Linked DNA regions of Homo sapiens: region 1 is linked to region 2. Evidence: fine-mapped expression QTL. A gene starts in region 2. The other region holds a variant in brackets. All regions are shown on one strand. Distances are from middle to middle. Region 1 overlaps RPN2 (ribophorin II). Region 2 holds the start of RPN2 (ribophorin II).

What was found. PIP is the estimated chance that this variant, and not a neighbour inherited with it, causes the effect.
Region 1: its variant is fine-mapped to the expression of RPN2 in whole blood (INTERVAL, PIP 0.90).

What each region holds. Positions count from the first base shown.
Region 1 is chr20:37,219,476-37,227,475 of GRCh38, forward strand. It overlaps RPN2 (ribophorin II), which reads left to right. Exons shown (of 17, transcript NM_002951.5): 10 at 4,403-4,494; 11 at 6,213-6,327. Among named protein-coding and RNA genes, the nearest start is that of GHRH, 38 kb to the right of the region's middle. The variant C/T (reference allele first, on the strand shown) is at 3,250.
Region 2 is chr20:37,166,923-37,182,524 of GRCh38, forward strand. RPN2 (ribophorin II) reads left to right here and starts at 12,408. Exons shown (of 17, transcript NM_002951.5): 1 at 12,408-12,447. The coding sequence starts at 12,435. MROH8 (maestro heat like repeat family member 8) reads right to left here and starts at 12,626. Exons shown (of 25, transcript NM_152503.8): 1 at 12,467-12,626; 2 at 12,301-12,465; 3 at 7,073-7,194; 4 at 4,990-5,135; 5 at 1,199-1,321. The coding sequence starts at 12,558. RefSeq lists enhancers at 11,966-12,525, 12,034-12,113, 12,464-12,513, 12,526-13,083 and a silencer at 12,634-12,683.

The sequences.
Region 1 (8,000 bases), 49 kb after region 2:
AATACATGATTTGCAAATATTTTCTCACAGTCTGAAGGTTGTATTTTCACTTTCATGATGTTGTCTTTTGAGGCACAAAAAATCTTAATTTTGATGAAGTCCAGTTTTAAAATGTTTTGTTGTTGTTGTTTGTGCTTTAGGTGTCATGTCTAAGATGCCATTATGTAATCCAAGGTTAAGAAGATTTACTACTATGTTTTCTTAAAAGAATTTTATACTTTTGGCTCCTACCCTTAGGTTTCTGATTCATTGTGAGTTAATTTTTGTGTATGGTGTGATGTAGGGGGTCCAGTCTTCTTTTGCAGTTGTCCTAGACCCATTTGTTGAAAAGGCTGTTCTTTCCCTAACGAATTGCCTTGGCACATACATCCTTGTAGGAATCACTTGACAATAAATGTAAGGGTTGATTTCTGGACTCATAATTCTATTTCATTAATCTGTATTGTCCTTATGCCAGTGCCACGCTGTCTTGATTACTGTAACAGCTTGGCATTTTGTAACATCAAATCTGGTGTTTGTCCAAGTGTTTCTGTGATTGTTGGAAAAATTATCTAAGTACAAAATAGCAGAAATGGCTAATAGCTCTTGTTCATGCAATGATAATAAGCCCCCATTGAGGCCATTTACTCTCCTTTTCCTCCCTAGTGATGGAGTAAGCATTACAAAATCTTCTCTCTTCCTCCTTATTACATTAGAGGTGTGTGTGTTTGTGTGTGTGTGTGTGTGTGTGAGTGTGAGAGAGAGAGAGAGTCGGCTTTGACCTTTGCCGTATATGCAACTTTTCTTTGTAATTTCAGTAATAATCACACTTAGAGCCTCAGAGCAGGTCATTGGGTCCTGTTTGTCCTCCCAAGAAATGCTCGACATTGGTCAGAGTGCATTAACGGTGGTTTGGTGTGGAAGTCCTGTAATAGCCCTCATTGACATTGGACTGGCTGTCAGGGGAAGCATCGGTTTTGGACGCTCTCATTAGCATTAATTGCCCCTAATGCACCATCATTTTTGACAGTAATAAGCTAAACAGGGGTGTTATTACTCCCAGCAGAAAGACTGCATTTCCTGGCGTTAAAACATTTTTTGAGATGTATATGGCATGTGGTGCAGGCAAAGAAAGGAATAGCATGATCCAGTGTAAAGCAGGCTTAGCTGCATTTAAAGTGGAGAAATAAGTCCCTTTCCTATTATAAAAACGAATCCTGCATTGTTAGTTGGAAGGAAGAAGCAGCTAATCAACAGGGATCCTACACTGAACTCTTTAAAAGAGGGCTTTGGAAAAAGTTACGATTTTTATTTCTAAATTTGCTTTAAAAGAGTAGCATAAAAATGCTTTGCTTTTGAGTGTTTCCAGAGACCCATTTATAGTGAGATTTTAGGAGCAGAAGGATTTGTTTTAAACTGTTCCCTATTTAGGAACAGCCCTACGGGTGTTTATGTGCAACAATGAAAGCTGTAACTTAGGAAACCTTTTAAAATTGGGGCTGAGAGCAAACCAAGAATGATGCAAGTTCACTGCAGTTTGCCCTTTGCTCACTCCATGTATCTGCATTGTCTGGGGATGCTCAGGATGTCTTTAGAACACACACGAAGCTGGATCCTGATTAGCTGGCCTTGGTGGCCAGTTAGTGCTGAGAGTTTACAGCCAGGATTCTAAGTGAAAACCTAAAAGCTGATAGCTTCCTTATCACTATCATTAGGAGACACTGAAGACTTTACACAATTCTTTTTTTTTTTTTTTTTTGAGGCGGAGCCTTGCCCTATTGCCCAGGCTGGAGTGCAGTGGCATGATCTTGGCTCACTGCAACCTCTGCCTCCTGGGTTCAAGCCATTTTCCTGTCTCAGCCTCCTGAGTAGCTGGGACTACAGGCGTGCATCACCATGTCTGGCTAATTTTTTTGTATTTTTAGTAGAGACAGGGTTTTGCCATGTTGGTCATGCTGGTCTCAAACTCCTGACCTCAAATGGTCCTCCTGCCTCGGCCTCCCAAAGTGTTGGGATTACAGGCGTGAGCCACCACGCCCGGCCTAGTCTGTTCTTTTTAATTGCTCCATAGTAATTAATAATATGCATGTATCTTTCTTTATTTAGCTAGTCTTCTGTTTATGGACATTTCAGTAGGATGATGATTTCAAGATCACATTTACAGATTAAATGAATGAGTTCTTAAGAGAATGAGTTAGAGAAATAGGGAATTACCTAGTTAATCTTGATGAAGATTGCAGAGTAGTTAACTCTGAAGACAGATTATTTTTATAGCATGGAGTATTATTGCTAATCCTCCTACCTCTCCCAAAATTGGAGGGCTGCTAAGCCCATCAAGCCTCCTCCTCAGTCTTCTTGCTATGGAATGTTTCCTACTCCCCATTTGGGGCCACCCATGGGCAGACTTGGGTCACAGTTCCTTCTGTGCTTTCATAACACTTTGTACATCCATTAAAGCAGCAACCTGGTTTATTATAATTATGGTTTGTGTACGGGACAGGAAGGATTTCTTGCCATCTCTGTATATTCCCTGAATGGGGAAAGTGCTCTCAGCAGGTGTCAAATCAAAGCTCTGTGGCTACTTCTTTGCCTGAGCCTTCCATTCCAGTTTGTTTTCCAGTGGAAATGATGTCAGTACTTGTCGGGTTGTGTTTTTTGCAAGAAAGCTTGCTCTGGTTCTGAGCCTTGCGTGAGTTGTAACGCTGTTAACTCAGCAGAGAGCCCAAAGAGCCAAAGTGAGGCTCCTAGCTCCCTTCTTGGGGGTGTCTATTCAACCTGATGGGCCATCGTCCCTCCTCCTCCACTGCCATAATTTCACCCAGTTGCCTAGACTCAATGACAGGCAATGATCCTAAATATAGTTCTGCTATGAATTCATAGGTGGCTGTGAATTCAAAAGTAGATGGTAATATCCTTACAGCTTCTGGTAATAAACCTTTACAGTTTTTTTTTTTAAAGCAAAACAACACCCCTATTCAACATGATAATTGAGGCTGTTGTCATAAAATAGTTATTACAGAGGCAGGAAAGAAGGCCGTTAGAAGGAATTACTTGATAGGTATCTTTATTTTTAATTTTTCTTCTTTGCCCTTGATTTGAGGTTGTCACACCTCGATATGGTATTTCAGAAAACTGCCAGAGCTATCCTTCAATTATTTGCCCAGCCCGTTATCTCTATTCCTTGATCCTGACTTAGACTATAAACCAGTGGATTTGGCAAGGATTTCCTTAAGTGTTACATTCAAACCTATCAAATATTTGGAAGGCTTA[C/T]AGATCTGTTTGCACATAAAAGCGCCTTGGGTTTGCATAATTTGCACATTCAAACTTGGGTTTTAATTCAGAAATTTAACATGTTTTCTGTCTCTTTTGGATATTTACATTGATTTTAATCTAATTTTAAAATTTCTCATTTATTGGCATTAGCCCCTCTTTGTGAAGATGTTTAAGGGACATACAGAATTCAAACACTTTAAGAGTCAACATGGATTGGTTTGTGCTTATAACAAACTCCCAATCTCAGTGGCTTAAAACAATGAGGGTTTATTTTTTCCCCACGCTAGATTCTTTAGGTGGTCAACTGGAGGCTCTGCTTCATGATATCTTTGCTCCAGGACCCTGGCTGAAGGAGCAAGCATCTGGACATTGTGTCCATGTCAGAGGAAAAGAGAGAATCACACATTGATTCTTAAAGCTTTCACTTCTGCCCACATTTCATTGGCCAGAGCAAATCATGTGGCCACACTTGACTCCATGGGGGCAGGGAAGTAGAATTCTACCACATGCTCAGAAGGAGAATGAGAAGTACTTGGGCAACAGTACAGATAACTACCATGACTGTCTAACAAGGAGCTGAAGTGCATGGATTCTGAGTCAGAGTGCCTGAGCTTGACACTGGCCTGATCACTTCCTCACAGTCTGATTTTGAGCAAAGCAGCTTCATCTCTCTCATCTTTTATTTCCTTATCTGAAAAGCAGTACCTTACAGAATTGTGAGGATTAAATGAGATAGTCTTTACAAAGCCAGTGCCTTTCACATGGTAAGCACTCAATAAATCCTAGCTATCATTAGAACCCAATTCTTGCTGATTTGAATGAAAGGTACTGCTTAAGGATTTTTCCCCTTATTTATTTTAAAGGACACATGAAAAGATTTACTTTTTTTCTTTTCCTTTTTCTTCTTCTTTTTTTTTTTTTGATGTTTACCATCCATCCAAAGCCAGAAAAAGACATTTTAGGCCTCGGAATGGGAGAGGTTGGAAATATTACTGGGCTGGGTCAGTGTTATTATCATCCTTGAAGACTCTTGTTCTAGGATTTTTTCATGCCTTTACTCACCTTAAAGAATAGAAAACTTTATATCTGCATGTGAATTCCTGAACACCCACCAATTGACCTGGCAACTGTCTTCTCTATTTTCCTCTAGCTCAGAGTCAAGATCTCCACTGAAGTTGGCATCACAAATGTTGATCTTTCCACCGTGGATAAGGATCAGAGCATTGCACCCAAAACTACCCGGTAGGTGAGATGCCACCTGATCACTCAGGGAGCTGAGGCTCAAGAGCTGAGAGGAGTATGCCTAGGCACTGAGCCCTGCAGGCATCAGTTCTGTGTCAGCAGCCATCCAGCTTACATCCTAAATTAAAGAGTCTGTAGTTCCACTGGTCCTGCACCGGGGATTCTGCGAATTATCTAAGTGGATTTGGAGATTGTATATACCAGTGTTTAGTCCATGCACAAACTATTTATTAACCAGTCCTCAACGAGGTAAAGCGCTTACCTCAGGATGTTAGTCTGAGTCAGTCAGCTATGTCACTAAGCATATTATTTAGTTCAGATGATAATTTTTAAAATAATAAGACCTTCTCAATGAAGGAAGCAAGGTATTAATTTACATTCTGGTGCGATCTCCTTATCATCACAGTCCTGAATTTGCTTTTAGTGACCTAATGGCAAGTCTCTCTGGCCTATGATGGGTCTGAAATTAGTTGGAAGCCTCACACGTGCTTAAAATTGAGATGGCAGATACCCAGCACTAGGGCTGCCATTTCCCCCTCCCAAGTCCATGGAGGCAGTACTAAGAAGTCATAGAACATTTGCTCCCACTGAACTCAGACACAGCCTCAGAATCTTTTTTTGAAACATAATCTTCTAAGTAGACACTAACAATTGAACAGAGTTGGGCCAGAATGCTGTAAGAAGCCTGCTCATCAGCCCTCCCCCAGATCCTTATTGGCTCAGCGGGGATCTAGATTTCTGGGGTATAGTCCAGACCCCAACTTTACTCAACTAGGGTAGCTATAGAGGCCAGAAGACAGTAGGGTGAACCATCAAGGCTCTTTGAAGATGGGATGTTAGCCAGAGGCTGGAAGCCAAGCAGCTACTCCTTTTAAATCACATAGAGTTGGCCTTTGTGTCTCTGGGTTGGCTATTTTTGTAGTGATATTGGAGATAAGAGCACTGTTTAAGAATCCACTGAAGAAATGTCTGTGCGAGCGCTTTGCTGTTTAATTCTCTGCCTAGATGAAGAGTTGGTCTTACTTACGAGTAAATGTAAAATGTGAGTATAAAATAAAGCCAGGTCTGAGCTCTGTAACCATTTGGCTGGTTTATCCCCTGGCCATCTTACCCTAAAATCCCAGGAGATAGCTGTGAAAAGAAGTTTTCCTCATCAAGTCTGCCTTTTGGGAAAATGACTTTTTAAAACCCAGTTTCAGGGCAGAAAACTAAATTGAAACAGTGTCCAGGAAAAAAATATAGCATTAAAAAAAGACAAAGCTGAAAGTACCCTTCTTTCTTTTGTGTCTCCTACCTGCCTTGTCTCGATTTTGCTCACGTGTGCTGCTGGCATCAATCCTGTAATTATTTCTCCTTGCGGTTCTGCCAGCCCGGCTCTCCTGTGTGCCTGCAGAGGCCACACGTGAGCTCCTCTGGTGCCTGACTTTGTTGGAGTTGAGAGCCTTAGGTCCTTGAAGTGAAAGCCCAGAGGTACAAGCATCTGTACACAGCATTTCCCCAGATCCTGCTGGAAGTTTATTCTGCACTTTTCTCAGTCCAGGCTTTATCAGTCCAATTTGCCCCCAGGTTGCAGACAGTTCTCCACATCTGTCTGTCCACAACAGAAGTGTTACTATGGGAGAGGGTGGTTGAGGCAATGAAGTGAAGTATATATTTTCTGCCTGTTCTCAGAGATATACTGATCCTCTCTGAAGACTAACTCTATATGCCTCTTTCAGGGTGACATACCCAGCCAAAGCCAAGGGCACATTCATCGCAGACAGCCACCAGAACTTCGCCTTGTTCTTCCAGCTGGTAGATGTGAACACTGGTGCTGAACTCACTCCTCACCAGGTCAGGAAGACACCTAGACAGTTCTCTTAACCTGAAATGTGAATGGATACTAGAGTTTACAATGTGGTCTATAACATGGACTAGAGAGAATTCCACGTTCCTGCTTTCAGGTTTTGACCGAACCCTGACAGTCCATCAGGTTCTCCCACATGACACTCTCACCCTTCTACTGGTTGTAGTCCTTTACCTGGGATACACCCTTCTTTCTAAAAAGTTAGCTGGTATTGAGGAGAGGTACTTAAGGCAGATTTGCACTTAATTAAGGTCATTCCTTCCTCCCTCCCTCCCTCAGATGGACTCTTGCTCTGTCACCCAGGATGGAGTGCAGTGGTGTGATCTCAGCTCACTGCAACCTCTGCCTCCTAGGTTCAAGCGATTCTCCTACCTCAGCCTCCCAAGTAGCTGGGATACAGGCATGCATTACCATGCCCAGCTAATTTTTGTATTTTTAGCAGAGACAGGGTTTCACCATGTTGGCCAGGCTGTTCTCATCTCCTGACCTCAGGTGATCCGCCTGCCTCAGCCTCCCAAAGTGGTGGGATTATAAGCATGGCACTAGACTCGAGGCTTTTTCTTTCTGATTTAAAAAAGGGAATGTGCTGGCCAGGCATGGTGGCTCACGCCTGTAATCCCAACACTTTGGAGGCAGAGGTAGGAGGATCACTTGAGCCCAGGAGTTGGAGACCAGCTTGGGCAATATGGTGAGACCTCATTTGTGTGTATGTATGTATGTATAAATAAATAAGGGAATATACTGAAATAATTTCAAAAGAAGACCCAAAGCATTTTTTTATTCTAGCCAAAGCAGATTTTGTATTTGTGGGACTCTGAAGAATAGCCCTTTTAACTTGTGCTTACTTTGTATTATGAAAGCAATAGGCTTTATTTTTTTCATAGAGTAATGAAAATTATTATTTAAAAGATTTTCAAACCATATACTCTTTCCCCTGAGAACCTAATATGGCCCCATGTCCACTCAGATACCCCCACTCCCACACTGCCTGTCATCCCCCTTGATGGAGAATAACCTGCCTTTAGTGTTACGTGAAGGAAGATTCAGATAAATACTTTGAATGCTGAAAGACAGGAATGCGGGACCTAGTTTGGTATGGGGTACCCTGTACCGATGCTTTAGCAAGGACCAGCAGACTTGTTGCCTTGAGGCAGCTTCAGGGCAGACCTCAGAGGCAACTGGATTTACTTGAGAACCTTCTTGCTTTCTGTTTCTTGCAGCTGCAGCTGTTGGACTTGTGCCCCAGGAGCACGTTCCTCTATGGCCACAGTCCTGGGAGTCCTCTGCTCCTCTCTCCTCCCTACTCCCAAACTCCAGACAGCTTGGTTAGGGCCCTTAGCCAAGCCTAACTGACCTTTGAGTACTTCAGCCTCTTAGCATTTCCCAGCTTCTTCCCAGAATGACATTTGCCAACCAAATAGCACAAGGGAAGGAAGAGTACAAAGAGAAGAAAGTAAAAGACTAAACTAGTAGGATTAGGATTAGAGCAAGGAGAGTTAGTGAGGAAGTGTAACTTTCACTGAATACTTGTCTCATCCAGAATTCTGCTGTAGAATCATGGCCTAGAGACCTTCCAGGTGGAGGTGGCATTTTGGTGATGAACTTGGCAGCTGCCTGCACTTGATTGTGATAGGAAGGAGATCTGGCATCCGGTCTCCCC
Region 2 (15,602 bases):
TTGTTGTTAAACCTGTATTATATCATCCTGTTCTTCTTAATGTATTATTTGGAATAGTTCTCAACCTATTTACTTTTTGAAATATGGCTACTTACAGATGGATCCTAAACCCTTCAAGGGCAAGGATTAAGGTTTCCAGGAAATGCGTAACCTTTATCAAAGCACCACAGTGTGTTTGGATATAGAAGATCCTTGGTAACTGTCCATTACTTAAAACTGTTAGCTGGTTAGCCTTGAATTATAAAAGCTATCAGTCTAATCAGCCTTATAGATCTGTGATATGAGAAAGAACTACTCATATTTCTGGAGTATGTAAGAAATTTCAACATCAGAATTTTAAAGCTTTAGAGAAACTGAAGGAGACATTTCACAGATGAGAAAACTAAAACACCAAGAAGTACTTGCTTGAGTGCATCAGCTCCTTTGCAATGCCCTTCTGGATCCTTTGCCATGGAACTGACCACTCAATCTCTACTCTCAGCCCCCCATATGCCTATTTAAACTTGTCACAGTTCCTGTGACATTTTATTATACCTTGCTTGGCTGCATAAATAGGGATTTTGTCTTCTTTGTCTTTGTAGCCCAAATTCCCAAGACAGTTCCTGGAACTGTCAGGCACTTAATGAGGGAATGAATGGATGAGTTGGTGGCAGAGTGTGGCTGGAGTAAGTACAAATAGAACAAAATACGATAACAATAATATAGTCATGTTTCTCAAGTGGCTCGTGTGTATTAGGTACCATGGACATGGCTTATATTTATTTTGAATTTAATGGTCACAATAGCTCTGTGAAGTAGATATAGCTATTCTTGTTTTATAGGGGAGGAAACTGAGGCATTGAGAAGTGAAGTAATTTCCTACAGTTTCACAGCTATAAAAAGGCAGGGCTGTCCCCTGAACCTAGGCATACGATTATGGGGACTGTCTGGGAACTACTGCTTGAGTCATGAGAATGTAGCGTTGGCCTTGCTGAGAAATTCAAATGCTGTTCCTGTCCTTTCTACTCTTCTTTTAATTGGTTTTCAAGGGTGATTACATGTGTGGGGTGGCCATGAGTATTTCTCCTCCATGTGGAGATACTGATACTAGAAGAGTTCAAGTGAATTGATAACATAGGTGAAGCCACTAAAAAATGCTTTGGCCAAGTCACTGAATTTGTGTGATCCCAATCATTTGTGATAAGGTCATAATACTTACATTTAAGGTATGCACAATGTCTGCTATGTGGCTGTGAATGAATGATTTTGCGGTTTCATCATAAGGTAAAGCTTGGCTGAGAGAAGACAGATCTCCTAGGAATTTCAGCTTTTCAAGTTCACCCTGAATTTGTGGGAAAATGATAAAAATACAATTATATGTCATAATCTTATTTGAATAACTGTGGAGAGTTTTTGAAAAGTTTCTTGGAATGCTTTAAATATCTGACATCTCTTTCAACCCAATATCAGTCTTTTATTACAAAGAATGAGTAAATTACGGAAGATTTCAGTGAAATTCCTTGTCCGCTGGCCCTGCCTTGCTTTGAGACCTCGGCTCTCCTCTCAGCTCCATGTTCCATCCTGGCTTTCCCCACTCTTAGTCTTTGCTTTTCTACCTGCCTGTCCTGTGTAGTGTTGCCTGATTAAGCTTCCTAGGCTGGGCATGGTGGCTCATGCCTGTAATCCCAGCACTTTAGGAGGCCGAGGTGGACAGATCACCTGAGGTCAGGAGTTCCAGACCAGCATGGCCAACATGGTGAAACCCTGTCTCTACTAAAAATACAAAAAAGTAGCCAGGCGTGGTGGCGCGTGCCTGTGCCTGTAGTCCCAGCTACTTGGGAGGCTGAGGCACGAGAATCACTTGAACCTGGGAAGCGGAGGTTGCAGTGAGCTGAGATGGTGCCGCTGCACTCCAGCCTGGGTGACAGAGTGAGATCCCATCTCAAAAAAAAAAAAGCTTCCTAAAGGTGACCTCTCTGATTCTGTTACTTCTAGTTCTTTCAATGTCATTAAAAATTCATTATTTTGCTTTTAAAATTTCCTATTAAAATCCAAGTTCTGATTGGAAGAATAAAATCTCTCAGTACTAACATTCTCTTTTTCTTTTTTATTTTATTATTACTATTATTATTATTATTTTTTTGACATGGAGTCTCGCTCTGTCACCCAGGCTGGAGTGCAGTGGCACGATCTCAGCTCACTGCAACCTCAACCTCCTGGGCTCAAGCAATCCTCCCGCCTCAGCCTCCCAACTAGCTGGGACCACAGGCACGCACCACCACGTCCAGCTAATTATTTGTATTATGTTGCCCAGGCTGGTCTCAAACTCCTGAGCTCAAGTGATCCACCTGCCTTGGCTTCCCAAAGTGCTGGGATGACGGGATGACAGGTGAGAACCACCATGCCTGGCCTCTCTTTTTCTTTTTCTTTTTTTTTTTTTTTTTTTGAGATGGAGTCTCGCTCTGTCACCCAGGCTGGACTGCAGTGGTACACCTGGGTTCAAGTGATTCTCCTGCCACAGCCTCCCAAGTAGCTGGGACTACAGGCATGCACCACCACACCAAGCTAATTTTTGTATTTTTAGTAGAGATGGGGTTTTATCATCTTGGCCAGGCTGGTCTCGAACTCCTGACCTCAGATGATCTGCCTGCCTTGGCCTCCCAAAATGCTGGGATTACAGGCGTGAGCCACTGCACCCGGCCTCTTTTCTAATTATACATACATACATATATATATAAAATTCCTATTTATCATAGAACCTTTTTTTTTTTTTTAAGACAGGGTCTTGCTCTGTCATCCAGGCTGGAGTGCAGTGGCGTGATCACCACTCACTGCAGTCTACATCTCCTGGGCTCATGGGATCCTTGTACTTCAGCCTCCTGAGTAGTTGGGACTATAGGTGTGCTTGAACCTGGGAGACGGAGGTTGCAATGAGCCAAAATCGCGCCACTGAACTATAGCTTGGGTGACAGAGCAAGACTCTGTCTCAAAAAAGAAAAAAAAAATCTCTATATATCTTAAGACTTGGAGAATGCGTTTGCTCCTGAAGCAGGGTCCAGTGTCCTTTCTTTTTTTTCTTTTGAGACAGAGTCTCACCCTGTTGCCCAGGCTGGAGTGCAATGGCATGATCTTGGCTCACTGCAACCTCCGCCTCCCAGGTTCAAGCTATTCTCCTGTCTCAGCCTCCCAAGTAGCTGGGATTACAGGCACCTGCCACCATGCCCGGCTAATTTTTTGTATCTTTAGTAGAGATGGGGGTTTCACCATGTTAGCCAGGCTGGTGTTGAACTCCTGACCTCGTGATCTGCCCACCTTGGCCTACCAAAGTGCTGGGATTACAGGTGTGAGCCACTGCGCCTGGCTGGTCCAGTGTCCTTTCTAAGTGTATCTACAAACCACATGAATAAATTGCTATCACAGCACTTGCGATACTCTGACATAATGACCTTCTTATTAATCTATTTCCCTGACTGACTGTGGAATCAGCTCAAGGCAGGTAATGGGCTTTTTTGTTTCAATTCATGGCAGCAATCCAAGCCCTTCATTAACTACAAAGAAATCGAAAGAAAACCATGCTGATATGAAGTATAAGGATTAGCTGAAGTCAAAAGTGAAGGCCAACATGTTGGCTTTAAATGTTTTATTTTTATTTTTCATTGGTATTCTACATAAAGAAAATGTACAGTTTGGTGGATTTTCACAAACCAAAAAACACCCTGTAGCCAGCAACAGATTATTACTAGCATTCCTGAAGTTTCCCTCATCCTCCTTCCAGTGGAGGCTCTGTGTGGTTTTGTGTGTATGTGTATGTGTGTGTTTTGTGTGTGTTTTGGTAAATTGACAAATTATGGTTGTATATATTTATGCGGTACAAAGTGACAACATGATTTTTAAAAATGTATCATACAGTAAAACTGATTTCGGCAGGAAGCATGTGGTTCCATGTGTTATAACACACACATACACATGTGTAACCATCACCACAATCAGGATACGAACAGTTCCACCATCCCCTAAATTTCTCTCCTGCTATCCCTTTTTAGTCACATCCTCTCCCCACCCTAATGCCTAGGAATCACTAATCTGTTCTGCATCACCATGTTTTGTCTTTTCAAGAATGTCACACAACTGGAATCATACAGTCTGTAACCTTTTCTGATTGGTTTCTTTCACTCAACACAATGCCTCTGCGATTCATCTTTGCTGTTGTATCGATAGTTCCCTCCTTTAATTGCTGAATAGTATTATATTTTTTGAGACAGGGTCTCGGTCTGTTTGTGGCCCAGTTTGTTTATCTGTGAATAGTCTTTAATCTTACTACTCCAACTTCTTCCCTGCGTCTAGCATAGTGCCTTATAAATGGTAGCTGTTCATTCATTACTTGTTGATTGGGTGAATGGGATTTAAAAGCCATAGAGGACCAGGCACAGCGGCTCATGCCTGTAATCCCAGCACTTTGGGAGGCCAAGGCATGTGGATTGCTTGAGGTCAAGAGTTCAAGACCTGCTTGGTCAACATGGTGAAACCCATGTCTACTAAAAATACAAAAATTAGCTGGGCAATGGTGGCACGTGCCTGTAATCCCAGCTACTCAGGAGGCTGAGGCAGGAGAATCACTTGAACCCGGGAGGCAGAGGTTGCAGTGAGCTGAGATTGTGCCACTGCACTCCAGCCTGGGCGACAGAGTGAGACACTGTCTCAGAAAAAAAAAAAAAAAAAGTCTAAAAAAATATAAACCAAAATGTCAGCAGTAGTTATTTGAGACTGGAATTAGGGAAGATTAGCTTTTAATTTTTATTATGGTTTTCTTTGTTTTTACATTAATTTCATAATTATATATGTAAGTATAATTTATAAATATATGTAAATATATGTATTATAAATATAAAACAAACATGTTTTATAACCTATAATATAAAATTATTTGTATAATCAAGAAATAATATGTTTAAAATATTTGTTAAAATGGAGGAATAAGTTGGATAACTCATAAAAATTGCTTGTGCATACCTTTAGCTCACCATTGAAAACCTTCTGGATGGACTGGATCAGTTTCTCAACAATGGCCTCACTGAGCGGGTCCTGTTGGGTCAGGTGTCTGGGGCTATGTGACAGGGGCTCACAATGGAGTCCAGGGATGTCAGGGATGTCCAAGTCTAACATTGAAAGAAAGACACTGGATGATGCCTCCGTACTGTGTAAAGTGATAAGGTTTAGTATGGAGTACCTCTGGCTCACCTTTACTACTTGCTCTATGACCTTAACCAAGTCCCATCCTGTCTCCTAGACTCAGTTTTCTCAAAAATAAATTCAATGTTCTCTAAGGGCCTCCTAAGCTACAAAAAACCTTTGGGACTGAGCTGTAGCAGAATGGTTAAGACTATGGACTTTAAATCTCAATTTGAGACTAGTTTGAATCTTGGCTCTACCACTTACTATTTGTATGACCTTTATCAAGCTAGTTTGCCTCCTGAAACCTAAGTTTCCTTTTCTGTAAAACAGGGTTATTATAAGAATTAAATGAGGTAATACATGCAAAGAACTGATCCCAGAAGTATTTCCCCCTTAACACATCTTTCATCTGAAGATTTTTACCATTCTTTTTTTTTTTTTTTTGAGACAAGAGTCTCACTCTGTCGCTCAGGCTGGAGTACAGTGGCGCGATCTTGGCTCACTACAACCTCTGCCTCCTGGGTTCAAGCGATTCTTGTGCCTCAGATTCCCAAGTAGCTGGAATTACAGGCACACGCCACCACCCCCAGGTAATTTTCGTATTTTTAGTAGAGATGGGATTTCGCTATGTTGGCCAAGCAAGGTCTCGAACTCCTGACCTCAGGTGATCCACCCGCCTCAGCCTCCCAAAATGCTGGGATTACAGATGTGAGCCACCGTGCCCGGCCACCACTCTACTTTTGCATTCTTTTTGATTTCTTGAATGCCTCTTCAGTAAACTCTACCCACTTCCTGCCATATTCCTATCATCCACTAATTGCAATAATTGAAGCCATGTTCTCATTCTGATCTGTGCACAGGCTGTTCCTTCTGCCTGCATTTTTCTCCTTCTTCTCCCCCACCTTCCCTTACCTATCTTTGCCTTGCTAACTCCTACTCATCCTTCAAGTCTCAGCTCCAGGATGCCTTTCGTGTATGCCCTTTTTGCCTATTTTGGCTAAGTATCCCCAAGTCACTAATAAACCGCTCTGTATCCACTCTGGCTCTCCCACCCCCATCACACTGATTGCACTGAGTTCCATTTGCCTGTTCATCCGTAGGTATACTGTGTCTGTTCTGTTCGATGCTATATCTCCAGCTGCTAGATTAAGCTTAGAGCACAGGAGGGCTTCATTAAGTATTTGCTGAATGAATGTATGAATGAATGAAGGTAGCTTCAAACACACCAGGATCTTTCCTGTGTCATGCACATGCTGTCCCCATCTATCTGTAGTACTCCCTATACTCACATGAGTTACTCTCACATCTTTCAAGCCTCCTTTAGATTTAAATAGCACTCATGGTCTCATACAGGTGTTCTCTGACAACCAGAGTTTCAAGTAGGTTCCTATTGCCCTTATTTTTGTCTCAGCCTGTTCTTCCATACTGCTTACTACAAGTTGTAGTTACTTCAGTGACTGTTTACTCTTTTTGGTCTCTTTTCTGCACAATAATGTAAGTTCTATGAGGGCAGTGACCATGTTGGTCATGTCTACTGTTGTATTCCCAGCTCCTGGTACTCAATACATGTTTTGTAGAATGAAAGTTATTCTGAAGCCCAATCCAGATCTTACCTTCTGCATAAAGTCCTCCCACTCCAAGGTATCCCACACTGCCCTTTCCCTCCTCAGAATCCCTCAAGCACTCACACTCTTCTGCAGAACTGTCTCAGGACCAACCTTAGTTTCCTGGACATCACGAACCATGTATCTCATTTTGCCAACTGTATTTCAAGGTCTCAAAGTCAGGGACCAAATTCATCATCAAAGTCTAGTCAAGGGCTGGTCACCCAGCAAGTACTCAATCAATACCTCTTGGCCTGAGTTGAAAATACATTCTCTTTTCCCCTCCCCTCCCCTTTCTAGTCCTTTCTCCTTTTTACCTGTCAGTTCAATGCTACTTGAGCCTTTTTTAATAATCTCTAAGTTGCTCAGCTCCAAATCCACACTTTCTGAATCACTGTCATAGGCACAGGGGATCACTACTTCTTCCTGACTACAGATCCTAGGAATAAAGAGGAGATGCGAAAAATTAGTTTTCCAGGACTGCTTCTGTCTCATCATTTATTTGAAAGCCTCAATGTCACTTTCTGAGAGAGGCATTTATTCATCACCAATCTAGATTAAGTAGCTCCCACCATCCTGGCCCCACAGTTACCTTCTTATTTTTTTCATGGTATTTAACCACCACCTACAATTACCTTGCTCATTTGGTTTATTTGTTTGACTGTCTCCTATCAGACTATAAACTCCATTAGAGAGAACCCTCGTCTACATGGTCACATTTGTATCCCCAATACCTACCTAGCATGTTGTCAGTCTCATTAGGAGTGAATGGATAGGTAAGAAATACTATGCTGCTGTTAAAAACAATGCTGGGTGCAGGTGGCTCACGCCTGTAATCTCAGCACTTTGGGAGGCTGAGGCGGGCAGATCACCTGAGATCAGGAGTTCAAGACCAGCCTGGCCAACATGGCAAAACCTGGTCTCTACTAAAAATACAAAAAATAGCCGGGCATGGTGGCACATGCCTGTAATCCCAGCTACTCGGGACACTAAGGCAGGAGAATCACTTCAACTGGGAGGTGGAGGTTGTAGTGAGCCGAGATTGTGCCACTGCACTCCAGCCTGGGTGACATAGCAAGACTCCATCTCAAAAAACAAACAAACCCATCAAAAAAACCAGATTGAGGTAGAACACCTCACCAAACTCCCTCTATCTTCCTTACCCTTTCCTACTTTTTCTTTTTACCATAGCACGTAACACCTTCCAATATATCTTTCACTTGTTTATGATGTTCATTGTCATTTATTTCCTCCTGCTAAAATGTAAGCTTCATGAGGGCAAGAATCTTTGGCTGCTTTGTTCATGAATGTATCCCAGGAGTCTAGAACAGTGACATACAGAAGTGCTCAACAATTATTGGCAGAGTAAATGATTGAGCAGGTCTCTATTTACTGAATGTTTAGCATAGATTCATGAAAGAAAAAGCAAGCTGTCAAACAATGGATATGACATTTTTCATTAAAACAAAACTATTTTCACAAAAGTATAAGTATATGTGTATACACACAGAAACACACACACACAAATGTTGGCATACATGAAAAAAAACTTATGGAGGCTGGGTATGGTGGCTCACTCTGTAATCTCAGCATTTTGGGAGGTTGAAGTGGGAGGACTGCTTGAGCTCAGGACTTCGAGACTAGCCTGGGCAACACGGTGAGACCTCATCTCTACAAAAAAGTAAAAAATTGGCCAGGAGCGGTGGCTCATACCTGTAATCCCAGCACTTTGGGAGGCTGAGGAGGGCGGATCATGAGTTCAGGAGATTGAGACCATCCTGGCTAACAGGGTGAAACCCCATCTCTACTAAAAAAAAAAAAAACAAAAAAATTAGCCGGGCACGGTGGCGGGCGCCTGTAGTCCCAGCTACTCGGGAGGCTGAGGCAGGAGAATGGCGTGAACCCGGGAGGTGGAGCTTGCAGTAAGCCGAGGTTGCACCACTGTACTCCAGCCCAGGCGACAGAGCGAGACTCCATCTCAAAAAAAAGAAAAAAAAAGTAAAAAATTAGCTAGGTGTGGTGGCATGTGCCTGTAGTCCTAGCTACTCAGGAGGCTGAGGCAAGATGATCCCTTAAGCCCAGGAGTTTAAGACTGCAGAGTTTAAGCTATGATGGCACCACTGCACTCCAGCTTGACTGACAGAGAGAACTTGTCTCTAGAAGAAACAAAAACACAACTTACGGAATTCATTTTTTAAAATTATTTATTATTTTTAATTTTTATTTTTTTTGACACAGAGTCTCACTTTGTCGCTCAGGCTGAAGTGCAGTGGTGCAATCTCAGCTCACTGCAACCTCTCTGCCTCCTGGGTTCACGTGATTCTCATGCCTCAGCCTTCTGAGTAGCTGGGATTACAGGTGCCTGCCACCACGCCCGGCTAATTTTTATATTTTTAGTAGAGACAGGGTTTCGTCATGTTGGCCAGGCTGGTCTCAAACTCCTGACCTCAGGTGATCTGCCCACTTTGGCCTCCCGAAGTGTGGGGATCACAGGCATGAGCCACGGCGCCCAGCCAATAAAACAATTTTGGAAGGACACCCCAAACCAATAAAGTTTGAACTCTGTCCTGTATGCATATATTTCTTTAATAAAAAATGAGTTCATTAAAAACAAAGAAACCCTCTAGGAGCAGAATGGTTGGGTTGTGTGGTAGATTGTGTAACTGACTTCTTAAGATGCTGCCTGGCCACGTGTTGTGTCTCACGCCTGTATTCCCATTGCCTTTGGGAGGCTAAGGCGAAAGGATTGCCTGATACCAAGAGTTTGAGACAAGCCTGGGTAACATAGCAAAATCCGATCTCTACAAAAAATTAGCTGGGGGTGGTGGCATGTGCCTGTAGTCCCAGTTACTCAGGAAGCCAAGGCAAGAGGGTCCTAGAGTCCAGGAGGTGAAGGCGGCAGTGAGCTATGATTCCATCACTGTATTCCAGCCTGAGCGACAGATGGAGACCTTGCCTCGTAAAAAACAACCACCGCCAGTGGCTCACGCCTGTAATCCCAGCACTTTGGGAGGCTGAGGTGAGTGGATCACTTGAGGTCAGGAGTTTGAGACCAGCCTGGCCAACATGGTGAAACCCCGTCTCTACTAAAAATACAAAAAAATTCAGCCAGGCAGTGTGGCGCGCGCCTGTAATCCCAGCTACTCGGGAGGCTGAGACACGAGAATCGCTTGAACCCAGGAGATGGAAGTTGCAGTGAACTGAGATTGTGCCATTGCACTCCAGCCTGGGTGACAGAGGGAGACTTTGTCTCAAAACAAACAAACAAACAACGAAGAAGCTGTCAATCTGTTTCCAAAATGGTCGTACCACTTTACATTTCCATCAGCAGGATATGAGAGATCCTGTTGCTCCACATCCTTGCCAACATTTGCTATTGTTGGTCTTTTTCTTTTTCATTAGTCAGGTGTGGTGGCTCCCATCTGTGGTCCACAGCTAGTCACTAGGACCACAGATGCGAGCCACCACACCTGGCTAATCAAAATTTTTTTTTTGTAGAGGCAGGTCTTGCTGTGTTGCCCAGGTGGGTCTCGAATTCCTGGACTCAAGTGATCCTCCTACCTCAGCCTCCCAAAAGCTCTGGGATTACAGACTGAGCCACCATTCCTGGCTGCATATGCTAAGTCTGTGGTGTAAATACTCCCATCATGGCCAAAATCAAGCTACCAATACTACCTTGGGAAGAGATGTTCAATGGCATACTGTCATATATTTCCACCACACAGTTACAACAGATATAAGCAACCACAAAAGCACACAAAACGTAAAATGTAGTGAAATAATTAGAAAATAATGAGTTTTGTTTTCAATATACTTTATTTCATCCTAAATTGATATAATTTTCTAAATGGCTGTATTTAACCAATTTGCAAAATTACTGCAAATTTAACAATGGACTCTCAAGATAGTATGAGACAGCTCCAGCACACCACTGGTTGGTTGTCTTATTCTTGAGCTGGGAGAATTCTTTATATATTCTACATCAGCACTGCCCAATGGAACTTTCTGCAATAATGAAGATGTCCTATAATTTTGAGTGGTCCAATCTGATATCCACTAGTTATCTGTGGCTACTGAGCACTTGAAATGTGGCTAGTACAAATGAGAGACTGAATTTTAAATTTTACTTAATTTTAATCCATTTAAATTCAAATTTAAATATCCACATAAGGCTAGTGGCTATCATAACAGACACAGAAAGAACTGACTCTCTCCCATGCGGGATAACATTTGGGACAATAATAACGTTAATAAGAGTTATATTGTGCATACTTTATATGTTCATAAAACTGTAGTTAAAAGCACAGATTCTGGAGTCAGCTGCCTAGGTTCAAATCTGTTTCCTTCTCTTTAAAATGGGATTAGCCTGTAATCTCAGCACTTTGGGAGGCTAAGGCCGAAGGATCCTTTGAGCCCGAGTTCCAGACCAGCCTGGGCAACAAAGCGAGACGCGGTATCTACCAAAAATAATTTTAAAGATTAGCTGGGCGTGGTGTCGCAAGGCAGCAGTCCCAGCTACTCCGGAGGCTGAGGCGGGAGGGAAGATTGCTTGAGCCCAGGATGTCGAGGCTGCAGTAAGCTGTGATCGCACCACTGCACTCCAGCCTGGGCGACAGAGCAAGATCCCGTATCAATAAAAAAGGAAAGAAAAGAAATAATGCTTGTAGAGCGTTCGGCACAGTGTCGGGTTATACTGTAAACATTCAGTAGTTGGCGCTAGTTATTAGAGCGGTGTTCCTGGATGAGCCACCTCCATGTTGAGCCTGTAAAACTGGCCTAATATGTTCTCTATGAGTCACTGCATTGCTCTGCAAATCAGATAAAACGTCACTCGTAGGTCAGTTATTAACAACCCCACTGATAATCTTTGGAAAAAACTGACATAATTTTCTTTTTCTTTTTTTTTTGGTGAGACGGAGATTTACTCGTTGCCCAGGCTGGAGTGCAATGGCGCGATCTTGGCTCACCGCATCCTCCGCCTCCCAGGTCCAAGCGATTCTCCTGCCTCAGGCTCCCGAGTAGCTGGGATTACAGGCATGTGTGACCACGCCCGGCTAATTTTGTATTTTTAGTAGAGACGGGGTTTCACCGTGTTGCCCAGGCTGATCTCGAACTCCTCACCTCAGGTAATCCGCCCGCCTCGGCCTCCCAAAGTTCTGGGATTACAGGCGTGAGCCACTGCGCCCGGCCAGAAACTGCCACAATTTTCTAAAGAGGAAAAAAAAATCCCTTCTAAGCTATCCCCTCCCGACGAGACCCTTCCTGTTCCTTTAAAATGGGCCGGGCAGCAGAAAGACGAGTGAGTGACAGCAGACAGGCCAATCAGAAGCGGCCCCGTCTCGGGCCCACCCCGAGGCCTGGCCCAACCGCGTCCCGGTAGCTCCCGGAATAGGAGCGTTGCGAGACGGTCGGTTCCAAGTGGGCCTGGGCGCGGGGGAGAGGCGGGTCTGTCCTCGGGAACTGCAAGGCCCTGTGAGCGGGAGGACTGGGATCCCGGCCGCGGCTGCTGGAAGCGTCGAAGCTCAGCGGGGCCGCGGACACTGACCTGTGCTTAGAACTCATCCTGGCCCGCAGAGCCTGCCGCGAGTCCCTGGCGTCCCCTGTGGCGGGCTCTTGGAGCCACTTTCCCGAGCGGAAGTCAGCCCGCGGCTCGGACTCCGGCGGGACCTGCTCGGAGGAATGGCGCCGCCGGGTGAGGAGTTGCGCGTGGCTTTGGGGAGAGGGCTGTCGCCCGCGGGAGGTTACTAGTCGCCGCTCGAGAGCCGGCCAGGCGGGATCCCCTTCCCCTGCGGGACAGGGGCATGGGCACAAGCTCTGGCTGGGGCGCTCTCGGATCGAGGGTCCGAAGGAGGGCTGCGAGCTGGTGGGAGTGCCCGCGACCTGGCGGGGTTGGTGCCTGGGGGAGGGGTGCAGCGCGGAGCTACGGGTCGCCCCGAGGCTCAGCCGTGGGGACCGCGGACGCGCTTAGCCTAGGTCTGGCCTCATTCATTTCACTCGCGCGGGCTTCTGGGCCAGGCGGCCTAAGGTTCTGGTCCCGGCGCTGCCCCTTACTCCGTGTGAGGTTTTGGGCAGATTGTCCTTCTTTGTGCTGTAGTTTCCCATTCAGTGAAAGGGGCAAAGAAAACCCTCACTTCTCTCTGGGAGCCTGGAGCATAAGTTCTCAAGTGACACTCTAGGTGCAAACTTGCAGTCGGCCACGTATTCATTGTGTAACCCAAAGCAGGTTACTTAACCCCTCTACACCTCAGTTTCTCATCTGTAAAATAAGTTAGTCAAATTAGTCACGTTATCTGCCTCGTTGAGTTGCTTTATTAAGTGAAATAATCTTCGTGCTTAGTTTAGAACAGTGCATGGCCCTAGGTAAGAACTAAGTTAACTGCATTGGAAGTTACTGAGTAGACGCTGTGCAGGGTGGAATTTCATGTAGCCTCATCGTAACTTTGGAAGCATGTACTCTTGTTACTACCATTTGACAGATGAGAAGTTGGAATCCCACGGAAGGGAACTTACTTGCCCAGGGTGACACATGAATGAGTCAGTGGCTCACCGTTTCATTATTTGAGAAGTTCAGGATAGTAAAGTGGTTAAAAGCAGACTTTGGATTCAAATTGCCTGAAGTTTGATTTTCAGTGATGTGTCCTAGGGCAGGTAACTACTTCTGAGCCTTACTTTCCTGGTCTGTGAAATGCAGAAAATAGCCACCTTGCTTAGATGTTGTGAGGATTTAATGATTTGGTGTGTGCAAAGCACAGCATAGCGTGGGCATACCTAACATATTAAGTGCTCAACTTTTAGTCAGAAAAGTTACTGCTCTCGTTAACATGGAGTGAGAAGATTAGGATTCTGACACAGGTGCTGTTTTAGGGGAATTTACGGTCTAGGTGGGAAAATGCTAGTCGCAGCCATTCACTAGATCTTCATATATTGGGTACCCGCCTGTGCACAAGGCATTGGGGATTCAGCATTAGTATCTTGACTCCGCTCTCTCTTAGGTCTTTCTGTCCATTAGCAGTTTCTGATAGGCTTTGACTTTGAATTCTAGCCAGACTAACTCTCATCACTTCTCATCATGTTCACTGCTGTTGCCCTGGTTTGGGCCACCATCATCTTCTGGCTTGGATTATGGCGGTAGTCTCCCAACTGGTGTCCCCTGCTCTGTCCTTGCACCTGCATGGTCTGTTCTCCACACAGTATTGTTTATTCTCAACACAGTAATACCATTAGAGTGTAAGTCAAATCACTCCTCTGCTTAGAACTTTCCAGTGGTCTCCAGCCGGGTGCGGTAGCTCACGCCTGTAATCCCAGCACTTTGGGAGGCTGAGGCGGGCGGATCACGAGGTCAAGAGATCAAGACCATCCTGGCCAACATGGTGAAACCCCGTCTCTACTAAAAAGACAAAAATTAGCTGGGCATGGTGGCACGTGCCTGTAGTCCTAGCTACTTGGGAGGCTGAGGCAGGAGAATCGCTTGAACCCGGGAGGCGGAGGCTGCAGTGAGCCGAGATCGCGCCACTGCACTCCAGCCTGGCAACAGAGCGAGACTCTGTCTAAAAAAAAAAAAAAGAACTTTCCAGTGGCTTCCACTACGGTGGTATACAAGGCCCTCTGGATTTGTCCTCTGCTACCTCTGTTACCTCATCTACTTCTTACCCTTTGCTTATTCCACTCAAGCTGTACTGTCCTTGCTGATCTCAAAAAACACTGTATGTGTACATACTCCTGATTCAGAATGTTTGCATTTGGTTTTTCTTTTCTTTTTTTTTTTTTTTTTTGAGACAGAGCCCCAGGCTGGAGTGCAGTGGCACGATCTCAGCTCACTGCCCACTCTGCTTCCCAGATCAAGTGATTCTCGTGCTTCAGCCTCCCTAGTAGCTGGGATTACAGGCCAAGTCACCATGTGCGGCTCATGTTTTGTATTTTTAGTAGACATGGGGTTTCACCATGTTGGCCAGGTTTGTCTTGAACTCCCGACCTCAGGTGATCCCCCTGCCTTGGCCTCCCAAAGTGCTGGGGTTAGAGGTGTGAGCCACTGCGCCTGGCCATATTGGGTTTTTCTTCTTAGCATAGTTTCCCACCAGATATCTTTATGACTTGCTTCTTCTTCAGATCTGTACTCAATATGTTTATTTCTTAGTCCTTCATAGACTACCGTATTTAAAATGCAGCCCTTCCCAAATATCTCTTCTGTACTTTATTTTTTTCCATAGCACTTACTTTGTAATGTGATAAATAATGTTATTTCATGTGATGTCTTTTGTCACTAGAATAGAAGCTCTTTGAGGGTGGGAGTTTTGTTTCTTTTGTTTCCTGCTGTATTTTTAACACCTAAAGTAGTGTGTGGCACATAGTAGCTCAGTATACATTTGATGAATACACCACGTGATAGATTTTTTCTTTTTTTAATTTAATTTTATTTATTTATTTTTATTTTTTTGAGATGGAGTCTCACTCTGTCACCCAGGCTGGAGTGCAGTGGTGCGATCTCGGCTCACTGCAACTTCCGCCTCCTGGGTTTAAGTGATTCTCCTGCCTCAGCCTCCCAAGTAGTTTGGATTACAGGCACCCACCATCACACCTGGCTAATTTTTGTCTTTTTAGTAGAGACAGGGTTTCACCATGTTGGCCAGGCTGGTCTTGAACTCCTGACTTCAAGTGATCCGCCCACCTCGGCCTCCCAAAGTGCTGGGATTACAGGCGTGAGCTACTGTGCCCAGCTGTCTTTTATTTTTTTGAGACAGGGTCTCTCTTTCTCACCCAGGGTGGAGTGCCATGGTGTGATCTCAGCTCACTGCAGTCTCAACCTCCTGGGCTCAAGTGATCCTCCTACCTCCGCCTCCCGAGTAGCTG